Regions from separate parts of the Homo sapiens genome. Here regions 1 and 3 are each linked to region 2. The links come from fine-mapping of genetic effects on gene expression. A gene starts in region 2. Each other region holds a variant in brackets. All regions are shown on one strand. Distances are from middle to middle.

Evidence for each region. PIP is the estimated chance that this variant, and not a neighbour inherited with it, causes the effect. A credible set is the group of variants that fine-mapping cannot tell apart.
Region 1: its variant is the best candidate, but not a certain one, in a credible set for the expression of SRPK2 in whole blood (TOPMed, PIP 0.75).
Region 3: its variant is the best candidate, but not a certain one, in a credible set for the expression of SRPK2 in whole blood (TOPMed, PIP 0.51).

The regions. Positions count from the first base shown.
Region 1 is chr7:105,446,165-105,450,402 of GRCh38, forward strand. No RefSeq gene overlaps it. Among named protein-coding and RNA genes, the nearest start is that of SRPK2, 59 kb to the left of the region's middle. RefSeq lists an enhancer at 2,005-2,124. The variant A/C (reference allele first, on the strand shown) is at 2,082.
Region 2 is chr7:105,386,840-105,391,077 of GRCh38, forward strand. It overlaps SRPK2 (SRSF protein kinase 2), which reads right to left and starts at 2,082. Exons shown (of 16, transcript NM_182692.3): 1 at 1,952-2,082; 2 at 1,809-1,863. The coding sequence starts at 1,967. RefSeq lists silencers at 1,233-1,332, 1,433-1,552, 1,893-2,022, 2,053-2,122, 2,133-2,182 and 1 more.
Region 3 is chr7:105,360,123-105,364,360 of GRCh38, forward strand. The region is part of intron 2 of SRPK2 (SRSF protein kinase 2); the gene reads right to left. Among named protein-coding and RNA genes, the nearest start is that of SRPK2, 27 kb to the right of the region's middle. The variant C/T (reference allele first, on the strand shown) is at 1,613.

The sequences.
Region 1 (4,238 bases), 59 kb after region 2:
AGAGACTTTTTCAAAAAACAAAAACTGAGGGAATTTATTGCCAGCAGACCTGCCTTGCAAAAACTGTTAAAAGAAGTTCCTCAGTGAAAAGGAAAATGATATAGGTCAGAAACTCTCATGCATATCAAGAAAGGAAGAGAATCAGAGAAGGAATAAAAATAACCTTTTACTTTTCTTATTAACTGATCTAATATATGACCATTCAAAATAATAATAGCAAGAAGGAATTGCATGATTATAGCATGGAAATGTGAAATCAATGAAAGCCGTTTCTTTGCTTTAGAAAGCAGTAGAAAGGAGTTGCAAATACTGTTTTTTTGTTTGTTTGTTTTTGTTTTTTGTTTTTTAGACAGAGTCTCACTCTGTCATCCAGGCTGGAGTACAACGGTGCAATCCCAACTTGGGATGCCTCCCGAGTAGCAGGGATTACAGGTGCCTGGCACCGTGCCTGGCTAATTTTTGTATTTTAGTAGAGACGAGGTTTCACTATGTCAGCCAGGCTGGTCTTGAACTCCTGACCTCACATGATCTGCTCACCTTGACGTCCCAAAGTGCTGGGATTATAAGCATGGGCCACCGTGCCTGGCCAGCAAATACTGTTATAAAGTATCTGTACTATCCATGAAGGACCTGTACTACTCATGAAGCAGTATGGTGTTATTTGAAAGTGGACTTGGTTATGAATGTATATTGCAATTTTTTTTTTTTTTTTCTGAGATGGAGTCTCGCTCTGTTGCCCAGGCTGGAGTGTAGTGGCACAATCTCGGCTCATTGCAACCTCCGCCTCCCAGGTTCAAGCAATTCTCCTGCCTCAGCCTCTTAAGTAGCTGGGACTACAGGCACCCGCCACCATGCCTGGCTAATTTTTGTATTTTTGGTAGAGACGGGGTTTCACCATGTTGGCCAGGCTGGTCTCAAATTCCTGACCTCAGGTGATCCACCTGCTTTGGCCTCCCAAAGTGGTGGGATTACAGGCGTGAGCCACCGTGCCTGGCCAGCAATTTTTTTTTTTTTTTTTTTTGAGACTGAGTCTCGCTCTGTTGCCCAGTCTGGAGTGCAGTGGCGCTATGTCAGCTCACTGCAAGCTCTGCCTCCCAGGTTCCCGCCATTCTCCTGCCTCAGCCTCCCAAGTAGCTGGGACCACAGGCACCTGCCACCACGCCTGGCTAATTTTTTGTATTTTTAGTAGAGACGAGGTTTCACCATGTTAGCCAGGATGGTCTTGATCTCCTGACCTCGTGATCCACCCGCCTCGGCCTCCCAAAGTGCTGGGATTACAGGCGTGAGCCACCATGCCCAGCCAGCAATTTTTTAAAGTAGTGAAAAATTCACATGGTAAGAGAGGAGAGAAAATGAGTTATTGCTCCAAGCACAGATGACAACTCCTGGAAGACTGGGCCCAAGTTCTGGAGGGAAGATGATCCTACTTGGCATCACTTCGTCTTCCTACCTCTGTGGACAGCCAATCCCACCCAGATGGGACTGTGTACAGGCTTCTTCCTTAGCCTGCAACAGTGGGAACTGATGGTGCTGTGATGGGTCCACAAGGAGACATGTGCAATGGAGTTGATGACAATGTTGTTTAGGGTGATGAGGAGTTAGAGGCAAATCTGATGTCCATCCCTGGAGCTCCGTGTAGTCCACGTGTGATGGGTGCACTCCATGGAGTACTCTGCAACAGTTAGCATTGAGGGATTCTCTGGAGAAAGCTGAGGTCCGGAGGAGGGATGTGGATCTCTGAAGGTCTCTGAGCAACAGTCAGTGGCAGGGCCAGGACTTCAGCCTGTGCATTTTGACTCCTGGTTTGACGTCCTTTCCTCTTTATCACAGCAGCCTCCAGTGCTTTATTTACTTTTGGATTTTCACCTTTTGGAGTTATCCACATCATGACTTCCTCCTAATTAATGTGCAGGGGTCCTAAGAAACCAGGATGGCACAGGAAAGAAACAGACTTTAGCTCCACTTTATTAGACAGATATTATTATTAGAAAAAAGGATCAACTAAGACTCTATCATCTTTCCAGCTAATGGAAGGTGGCTAACTCGTTAAGTGGAATGACTCTGTGTCAGCTTGACGAGCA[A/C]GTTTTTTGGTAGTGAAACATTTGTCTAGGCCAAAACAGGTAGTAAGATCTTCTATGTTGAAAATTAATTTTGTAAACAGGAAGAGAGAAATGTAGAAAACAGGATGAATGTGGCTAGTAGAGAACAGACGTGGGTGCTGGGCTAAGGAGAGTTATGTTCCCCATTTGCAGCTCTCAGAGGGTGCAGGTGGAGTTGAACTGAGCTGAAACAAAAGCGTTCCCAAGTGCGCCTAAGTGGTTTTTTTTGTTGTTGTTGTTGTTGTTTGTTTGTTTTGAGACGGAGTCTCACTCTGTCGCCTAGGCTGGAGTGCAGTGGCGAGATCTTGGCTTACTGCAACCTCTGCCTCCCGGATTCAAGAAATTCTCGTGCCTCAGCCCAGCAAGTAGCTGGGATTACAGGCGCCCACCACCACGCCCGGCTAATTTTTGTATTTTTAGTAGAGACAGGGTTTCACCATGTTGGCCAGACTGGTCTTCAACTCCTGATCTCAAGTGATCCGTCTGCCTAGGCCTCCCAAAGTGCTGGGATTACAAGTGTGAGCCACCGCTCCTGGCAGTGCCTGACTATTTTCATCCTGTAAAGTTATGGTTGTGAATTCTTGCGCTTAACCCTGAGCCCTCCCAGTCATGAAAATCCATTTTCAGATGGTTACTGTGGACACTGCAGCAATCTAGTTATTATGGACACCATAGGAACTTAGTTTAGAAACAAAATTTCAATAAAGAATAACTCCTACAGCCTTTAAAACCCAACCCTCAGCTGGGCGCAGTGGCTCACGCTTGTAATCCCAGCACTTTGGGAGGCCGAGGCAGGCAGATCACGAGGTCAAGAGATCGAGACCATCCTGGCCAACATGGTGAAATCCCGTCTCTACTAAAAATACAAAAATTAGGTGGGCGTGGTGGCATGTGCCTGTGGTCTCAGCTACTCGGGAGGCTGAGGCAGGAGAATCGCTTGAACCCGGGAGGGGGAGGTTGCAGTGAGCCAAAATCACGCCACTGTACTCCAGCCTGGTGACAGAGCAAGACTTTGTCTCAAAAAACAAAACAAAACAAAAACCCAACCCTCAAGAAAGTAAAGATAGGCCAGGCTCAGTGGCTCAAGCCTGTAATCCCAGCACTCTAGGAGGCCGAGGCAGGCAGATGGCTTGAGCTCAGGAGTTCAAGACCAGCCTGGACAACATGGTGAAACCCCATCTCTACCAAAAATACAAAAATTAGCCTGTAGTGGTGTGTGCCTGTAGTCCCAGCTACTTTTAAGCCTGGGAGGTTGAGGCCTCAGTGATCCGTGATCGTGTTACTACAGACAGCCTGAGCAACAATGAGATCTTGTCTCAAAAGAAAAAAAAAAAAAAAAGAAAGTAGACAACCCATGGAATGGGAGAAAATATTTGCCAATCGTATACCTGGTAAAGGATTTGTGCCTAGAACATACAAAGAACTCTAGATCTCAACAACATAAAGAAAAATAACACCCCCCAAATGGGCAAAAGATCTCAATAGACATTTCTCCAAAGAATAGACAAATGGCCAATAAGCATACAAAAATATTCCACATAGTCATCAGGGAAATGCAAATCAAAACCGTAGTGAGAAACCACTTTATTTTCATTTGTTTAAATTTATTTTTATTTTTGCTTTTGAGATGGAGTCTTGCTCCCTCGCCCAGGCTGGAGTGCAGTGACGCAATCTTGGCTCACTGCAACCTCTGCCTCCTAGGTTCAGCAGTTCTCCTGTCTCAGCCTCCCAAGTAGATGGGATTACAGGTGCCTGCCACCATGTCTGGCTAATTTTTGTATTTTTAGTAGACATGGGGTTTCACCATGTTGGCCAGGCTGGTCTTAAACTCCTGACCTCAAGTGATCTGCCCAACTTGACCTCCTAAAGTGCTGGGATTACAGGCGTGAGCCACCACGTCCAGCAGAGAAACCTCTTTATACCCAAAAGGATGGCTACAATCACAAAGACAGATAACAACAAGTGTTGACGAGGATGTGGAGAAAATAGAACTGTCATACACTCCTAGTGGGAATGTAACATGGTGCAGCTACTTAGGAAAACAGTCTGAGAGTTCTTCAAAGATTAAACACAGTTATATGACACAGAAATTCCACTCCTAGCTTTATACTCAAGAGAAATGGAGACATATGACTGTAC
Region 2 (4,238 bases):
ATCATTAGCTGGTGTGTTATTTTCCCCCTCAAATTCTATCACATATACACAATACACAGTGGGAGAAACTGGCAGATTAATCTGTGAGAGGAAAAGCTGAGTACTGTGGCTATTCACTAAGTCTTCATCAACATACCACATAAATCCAAACTGCGGCCCACCAAAAAGGCCCTCGACCATTAGGAAAATCATACTCTAATATATGCAAATACAAGACACATATTGACTTAATTAGAACTGTTTTTCCACATGTACGTAAAGGTAACATGCACATATACGTGTCTATTTGTATATACATGCACACATAGCCATCTCCGACACTGGGGTCATACTTTTTCCACTTGTTTTTATGTTTCTGAGTATAACAGACTACGTGGAATTAAATCAATGCTTTGAATTAAGAGCTGTGATTAAAACACAGTACTTATTCAGAATCCTAAACATTACAGTTCTCCTTACCACTGGGTAAACTTCCATGGTTCACCAAAGGAAATCTCAAATTTAAGGTTGTAATTCACTTGAAAGCTAGCACTAATTTTTTTAAAAGCAACCAAAACTACCAAAAATCCAGTCCATTTTAACATCTTATGAATTCAATATCCAATTTTTACCGACCAATTAGTTCTTCAACTCTTTAGGAAGTGCTTTCCCCTTACTCTAATGGTTTTTTCTTTTTTTTTTTTTTTTAAGGTATTTTTAAGTCACTATCCACATTTTGTGAAACTGAAGGACCAAGGCCAACGAGAAGGGGAAAAAAGTGAGCGTGCTGCGACGTACCCCTCAAAGGAAACAACCAAAAATGTTTCTGGATTTTATTAAAGATAATGCTGGATTCTCGTTCCCCACAGTACCAAAGATGCCACACAGAGTATTCTTGCTCAAAAGAGCGAAGCAATTAATCTAGAGGAAGAGATAACGATGTCGAACGCTGGTAAATCAAAAAAATTAGGAGAGAGGAGTGGAAAAGGAGAAGACGCGGCGGCGCTGTGCGGTCTCGGAGCAGCTCTCCAGGAAAGGGTTCTTGGGCAGCGGCCCCCCTGCTCGGGTGAGCGGCCAGGCTGGAGGTGGCCGCCACGGGCGCGTTTTCCACTCCGACCGGCTCCCGCGCACACGCCCACCGCCCTGCGCAGCCCGCGACCCCGGCGCCCGCAGCGCACCCAAGTCACGCTCAACCCGAGCGGAAAGTTTCGAATCCAAACCCGAGAGCCGAAACGCACAGGTCTCGGGGCTGAACTCGCGCCAGGAACACGCCCGAGGCAAACCACTTGACAACCAGCTTAGGTTCTCAGCAGAAAGGCCGACAGGCGGGGGCCGGGGAGGAAGGGGAGGCGAGACACACGCCCTCCCGCACACTCGGCCCCTCCGCCTCCTCGGCCCGCGGCTCAGGTGGGAGCAACGCAGCCGCTGCACTCCCGCAGCGGGCGGGCCGGAGCCCAGCGGCAGACGCCGGGGCCCCTTCCGGAAAGGGCCGCGACCCCCGGGCCAGCTCGCGGGCAAGGGACGGGTGCGCACGCCCTGCCCGGCGCCTTTCCGCCGGCCTCCCGCCCGCCGGCCGGTGGCGACCCGGGGCGGGAGGTCGCGGGGTCGAGGCTCCGTGATGCTAGGGAACCGGCCGCGGCCCGCGCGCCCCTCCCCCGCCGCCGCCCCTCCCCCCGGGCCGCCCGCCGGGGGCAGGAGCCGAGCGCCAGCGTCCCGGGGGACCAGCCCGCCCGCCGGCCCGGGGACCCGGACAACTTTCCCCTGCGCGGCCGCGGGCGCCCCCGACGGGGCGGGGGTGGGGAACGGGGACAGGCGCAGCGTGGACTCACTTTTTCGGATGTTTCTCTCTTTTCGGCCTCCGCTTTCGGGCCTGAATGGCCAGCACTGGGGAAGAGAAGACACACATTAACGGTCGGGCCGCCCGCCCGGGCTGGCCGCGTGGCGGGGAGAGGGCGCGCCGCGGGCCACTCACCTTTCCGGGAGCTCATTCCGACGCGGCGGAAGCGGGGCGGGGGGCTTCGCGACGGCGACGCGGGCGCCGAGACGAGCTGGGCTGCAGCCTCCACTCGCTCCGCCGGCCGGGAGGAGACGAGAACCGCGCCTGCGCCGCCGCCGCCGCCGCCGCTCCAGCAGGGACCCAGCAAGACCCGCCCCCGTCCGGCCCCGCCCCCGCCCCGCCCCCACCCGCCGGCCCCGGGGGTCGGGACCCCAGCGCCGCGCGCCCAGCGCCCCGCGCCCCCGCCCCACCCACCTGTGCAGAAGTGGCCGCCGCCCATGGCCGCGCTGGCCCTCGGCCTCCCCCACCCCAGCCCGCGGCCCGGGCCTCCGCCTCCTGCGATCCTGCGGCTGGCCCAGGCCGCCCGCCTCTCCCGGGCACCGGACCCGCGGGACCCTCCCTCCCCGCCGCGGCCTCTCCCCTCCGCACCCCGGCCGGTCGCGCCGCCCGCTGCTCCATGCGCCCGTCCTTGGCCGGCGCCTCCGCGGGTCTCGCACCACCTCTCTTCCCGCGGCCTCTTCTCTCCCTTTGCTCCTCTACATCCTTGCAACCCCATGAGCGCCGCTTCCTCCTCTCCGGCAGGCGTGGAAAGGGCACACGACCAAAAGCTGGGAAACCTGGGTCCGCGATTAGCGGTGTGACCTTGGAGAAGTCATTTTCTCTCCCACCTCTAAGTGCCCTCCAGGATTGCATGAGTTTAATGAAGGAAAAGATACAGATAGCATTCAAGGTAGGACAAAGGTTTTGCACATGAATTGAAACTCGCTTCCGTAAACACCAGGTGTATAACAATTCAAAACAACAATCACACCAAGTAGTTATTTTCTGCATCCTACAATGAGGAAACTGAGTCCCAACGAGGTTAAAAAGTTTAACCAGCCAGGATCGAAATTCAGGCCTGGCCGTCGACAAACCACCTTATCAGGCTGCCTACAAAAGATGTGAATCAAGTTGATAGTGACACAAAAAGATAACTGCAATGTTCTCTTATTTATGTAAATAATTACAATAGTTTTTGAAAGATACGCATTCTGACTATTAACTCCCTCATTGGTCACACAACTGTATCTTTGACAAGGTGGCTTACACTAAGGATGATAAATCAGAACGGGAAACTCTGCTTGGATTTTGAAGAGTCCTTAACTTTTTATATTCAAAAAAATATCAAACCCTATAGAAAAGTTACAAGGAAAATACAATTAACAGCCAAATTAACCCATATTCACCAATTTTTAACATTCTGCCACATTTGCTATCTATGTGTCTGTGTGTATGGTTTATTTTGCTGAATCACTTGAGTTTTTGTAGACACTGTTACCCTTTATCCCTAAATATTTCAGTACATATCTACTAAGAATAAAGATAATCTCCCACATAATCAGAATTCCATGATCACTCCAAGAAACTTTCATACTAATACAATGTAATCATCTGTAACATACAGGCCATATATATTCAATTTTGCAAAATATCCCAGTAATATCCCTTGTCGCTGATTTTCTTTTTTTCCCAATTAGTCTACCATTAAGGATCATCCGTTGCATTTAATTGTCATGTCTTTTTAAACACCTTTAGTCTAGAATCATTCTTGGTTTTGTGTTTTGGTTTTCTTTCTATTTATTTATTTATTTTGAAATGGAGTCTCACTCTATCACCCAGGCTGGAGTGCAGTGGCGCAATCTCAGCTCACTGCAACCTCAGCCTCCCGGGTCCAAGCCATTCTCCTGCCTCAGTCTCCCGAGTAGCTGGGATTACAGGCATACACCACCACATCTAGTTAATTTTTGTTTTTGTTTTTTTTTTTTTTTTTTTTTTTTTAGTAGAGACAGGGTTTCACCCTATTGGCCAGGCTGGTCTCGAACTCCTGACCTCGGGTCATCCACCCACCTCAACCTCCCAAAGTGCTAGGATTACAGGCCTGAGCCTCGGCACCCAGCCTTTTTTTGTTTTGTTTTGTTTTGTTGTTTATAACATTGACTTTTTTGAAGAATCCAGTTCCACCATTTTGCAGAATGTTCCCTGTTTTGGATTTGTCTGTTTCCCTATGATTAGATTCAAGTTAAACAATTTTGTTGGCTATACTATAGATGATGTTGTATTCATCTTAGTGCATCAAAATATGATGTCAGTTTGTTCCATTACTGGTGATGTTACAGTTAATTATTTCTCCAAGATACAGGTACCTTTTCCCTCTGTATTTAAGAAGTCTGTATGAAAAATGAGCAAAGGATTTGAATGGACATTTCTCCAAAGACATGCAAAT
Region 3 (4,238 bases), 27 kb before region 2:
CATTATGTAATGGCCTTCTTTGTCTCTCTTTTGTTCTTTGCTGGTTTAAAGTCTGTTTTATCAGAGACTAGGATCTCGACCCCTGCTTTTCTCTGCTTTCCATTTGTTTGGTACATCTTCCTCCATCCCTTTATTTTGAGACTATGTGTGTCTCTGAAGGTAAGATGGGTCTCCTGAATACAGCACACTGATAGGTCTTGACTCTCTATCCAATTTGCCAGTCTGTGTCTTTTAATTGGGACATTTAGCCCATTTACATTTAAGGTTAATACTGTGTGAATCTGATCCTGTCATTATGATGTTAGCTGGTTATTTTGCCCATTAGTTGATGCAGTTTCCTCATAGCATCGATGGTCTTTACAATTTTTTTTGCAGTGGCTAGTACCAGCTTTTCCTTTCCATATTTAGTGCTTCCTTCAGGAGCTCTTGTAAGGCAGGCCTGGTGGTGACAAAATCTCTCAACATTTGCTTGTCAGTAAAGGATTTTATTTCTCCTTCACTTATGAAGCTTAGTTTGGCTGGATATGAAATTCTGGGTTAAAAATTCTTTTAAGAATGCTGAATACTGGCCCCCACTGTCTTCTGACTTGTAGGGTTTCTGCCGAGAGATCCGCCGTTAGTCTGATGGGCTTCCCTTTGTGGGTAACCCGACAGGCCTTCATGCTAAAAACTCTCAATAAATTCGGTATTGACAGAACGTATCTCAAAATAGTAAGAGCTATTTATGACAAACCCACAGCCAATATCATACTGAATGGGCAAAAACTGGAAGCATTCCCTTTGAAAACTGGCACAAGACAAGGATGTCCTCTCTCACCACTCGAATATTCAACACGTTGCTGGAAGTTCTGGCCAGGGCAATCAGGCAAGAGAAAGAAATAAAGGGTATTCAATTAGGAAAAGAGGAAGTCAAATTGTCCCTGTTTGCAGATGACATGATTGTCTATTTAGAAAACCCCATCATCTCAGCCCAAAATCTCCTTAAGCTGATAAGCAACTTCAGCAAAGTCTCAGTCAATGTACAAAAATCACAAGCATTCTTATACACCTATATACCAATAACACACAGAGAGCCAAATCATGAGTGAACTCCCATTCACAATTGCTACAAAGAGAATACAATACCTAGGAATCCAACTTACAAGGGATGTGAAGGACCTCTTCAAGGAGAACTACAAACCACTGCTCAATGAAATAAAAGAGGACACAAACAAATGGAAGAACATTCCATGCTCATGGATAGGAAGAATCAATATCGTGAAAATGGCCATACAGCCCAAGGTAATTTATAGATTCAATGCCATCCCCATCAAGCTACCAATTACTTTCTTCACAGAATTGGAAAAAACTACTTTAAAGTTCATACGGAACCAAAAAAGAGCACGCACTGCCAAGACAATCCTAAGCAAAAAGAATAAAACTGGAGGCATCATGCTACCTGACTTCAGACTATACTACAAGGCTACAGTAACAAAAACAGCATGGTACTGGTACCAAAACAGATATATAGATCAATGGAACAGAACAGAGGCCTCAGAAATACCACCGCACATCTACAACCATCTGATCTTTGACAAACCTGACAAAAACAAGCAATGGGGAAAGCATTCCC[C/T]ATTTAATAAATGGTGCTGGGAAAACTGGCTAGCTATATGTAGAAAACTGAAACTGGATCTCTTCCTTACACCTTATACAAAAATTAATTCAAGATGGATTTAAGACTTAAATGTTAGACCTAAAACCATAAAAACCCTAGGAAGAAAACCTAGGCAATACCATTCAGGACATAGGCATGGGCAAGGACTTCATGACTAAAACACCGAAAGCGCCTGGCAACAAAAGCCAAATTGAAAAACAGGATCTAATTAAACTAAAGAGCTTCTGCACAGCAAAAGAAACTACCATCAGAGTGAACACGCACTACAGAATGGGAGAAAATTTTTACAATCTACCTATCTGACAAAGGGCTAATATCCAGAATCTACAAAGAACTTAAACAAATTTACCAGAAAAAAAATCAAACAACCCCATCAAAAAGTGGGCGAAGGATATGAACAGACACTTCTCAAAAGAAGACATTTATGCAGCCAACAGACACATGAAAAAATGTTCATCATCACTGGCCATCAGAGAAATGCAAATCAAAACCACAATGAGATACCATCTCACACCAGTTAGAATGGCGATCATTAAAAAGTCAGGAAATGGCCGGGCGCGGTGGCTCACGCCTGTAGTCCCAGCACTTTGAGAGGCCAAGGCGGGTGGATCACAAGGTTGGGAGATGGAGACCATCCTGGCTAACTTGGTGAATGGCCTGAACCCAGGAGGCAGAGCTTGTAGTGAGCTGAGATCACGCCACTGCACTCCAGCCTGGGCGACAGAGCAAGACTCTGTCTCAAAAAAAAAAAAAAAAAAAGTCAGGAAACAACAGGTGCTGGAGAGGATGTGGAGAAATAGGAACACTTTTAAACTGTTGGTGGGACTGTAAACTAGTTCAACCATGTGGAAGACAGTGTGGTGATTTCTCAAGGATCTAGAAATAGAAATACCATTTCACCCAGCCATCCCATTAACGGGTATATACCCAAAGGATTATAAATCATGCTGCTATAAAGACACATGTACATGTATGTTTACTGTGGCACTATTCACAATAGCAAAGACTTGGAACCAACCCAAATGTCCATCAGTGATAGACTGGATTAAGAAAATGTGGCACATATACACCACGGAATACTATGCAGCCATAAAAAAGAATGAGTTCCTTTGTAGGGACATGGATGAAGCTGGAAACCATCATTCTAAGCAAACTATCGCATGGACAGAAAACCAAACACTGCATGTTCTCACTCATAGGAACTGAACAATGAGAACACTTGGACACAGGATGGGGAACATCACACACCGGGGCCTGTCGTGGGGTGGGGGGAGAGGGGAGGGATAGCATTAGGAGATATACTTAATGTAAATGATGAGTTAACGGGTGCAGCACACCAACATGGCACATGTATACATATGTAATAAAGCTGCACGTTGTGCACATGTACCCTAGAACTTAAAGTATAATAAAAAATAAATAAAAATAAATAAAAAATAAAAGAAACTACCATCAGAGTAAACAACCTACAGAATGGGAGAAAATTTCTGCAATCTACCCATCTGACAAAGGGCTAATATCCAGAATCTACAAAGAACTTAAACAAATTTACAAGAAAAAATCAAACAACCCCATCAAAAAGAGGGCAAAGGATATGAACAGACACTTCTCAAAAGAAGACATTTATGCAACCAACAGACACATGAAAAAATGCTCATCATCACTGGCCATCAGAGAAATGCAAATCAAAACCACAATGAGATACCATCTCACACCAATTAGAATGGCAATCATTAAAAAGTCAGGAAACAACACGTGCTGGAGAGGATGTGGAGAAATAGGAACACTTTTACACGGTTGGTGGGAGTGTAAATTAGTTCAACCCTTGTGGAAGGCAGTGTGGTGAATCCTCAAGGATCTAGAACTAGAAATACCATTTGACCCAGCCATCTCATTACTGGGTATATACCCAAAGGATTATAAATCATGCTACTAGGCTTACTACACATGCACATGTATGTTTATTATTGCGGCACTATTCACAATAGCAAAGACTTGGAACCAACCCAAATGTCCATCAATGATAGAGTGGATTAAGAAAATGTGGCACATATACACCATGGAATACTATGCAGCCATAAAAAAGGATGAGTTCATGTGCTTTGCAGGGACATGAATGAATCTGGAAACCATCATTCTCAGCAAACTATCACAAGGACAGAAAACCAAACACCGCATGTTCTCACTCGTAGGTGGGAGCCGGACAATGAGAACACATGGACACAGGGCGGGGAACATCACACACTGGGGCCTGTCGTGGGGTGGGGGGCTGGGAGAGGGATAGCATTAGGAGAAATACCTAATGTAAATGACAAGTTGATGGGTGCAGCAAACCAACATGGCACATGTATACATATGTAACAAACCTGCATGCTGTGCACATGTACCCTAGAACTTAAAGTATAATTAAAAAATAATAAAATAATTTTTAATAAAAATCCTTTGAAGTCATGCACATCTGGACAGTCTTCTCCAGCAGGAATTTGTTTCAAGCCTGATGGTTTTCATTGCTTTTTCTGTAACAACAATGGTATCTTCAGTGGTACAACCCAGACATTCATGATGGTCTCTCTATTGAGTTCTC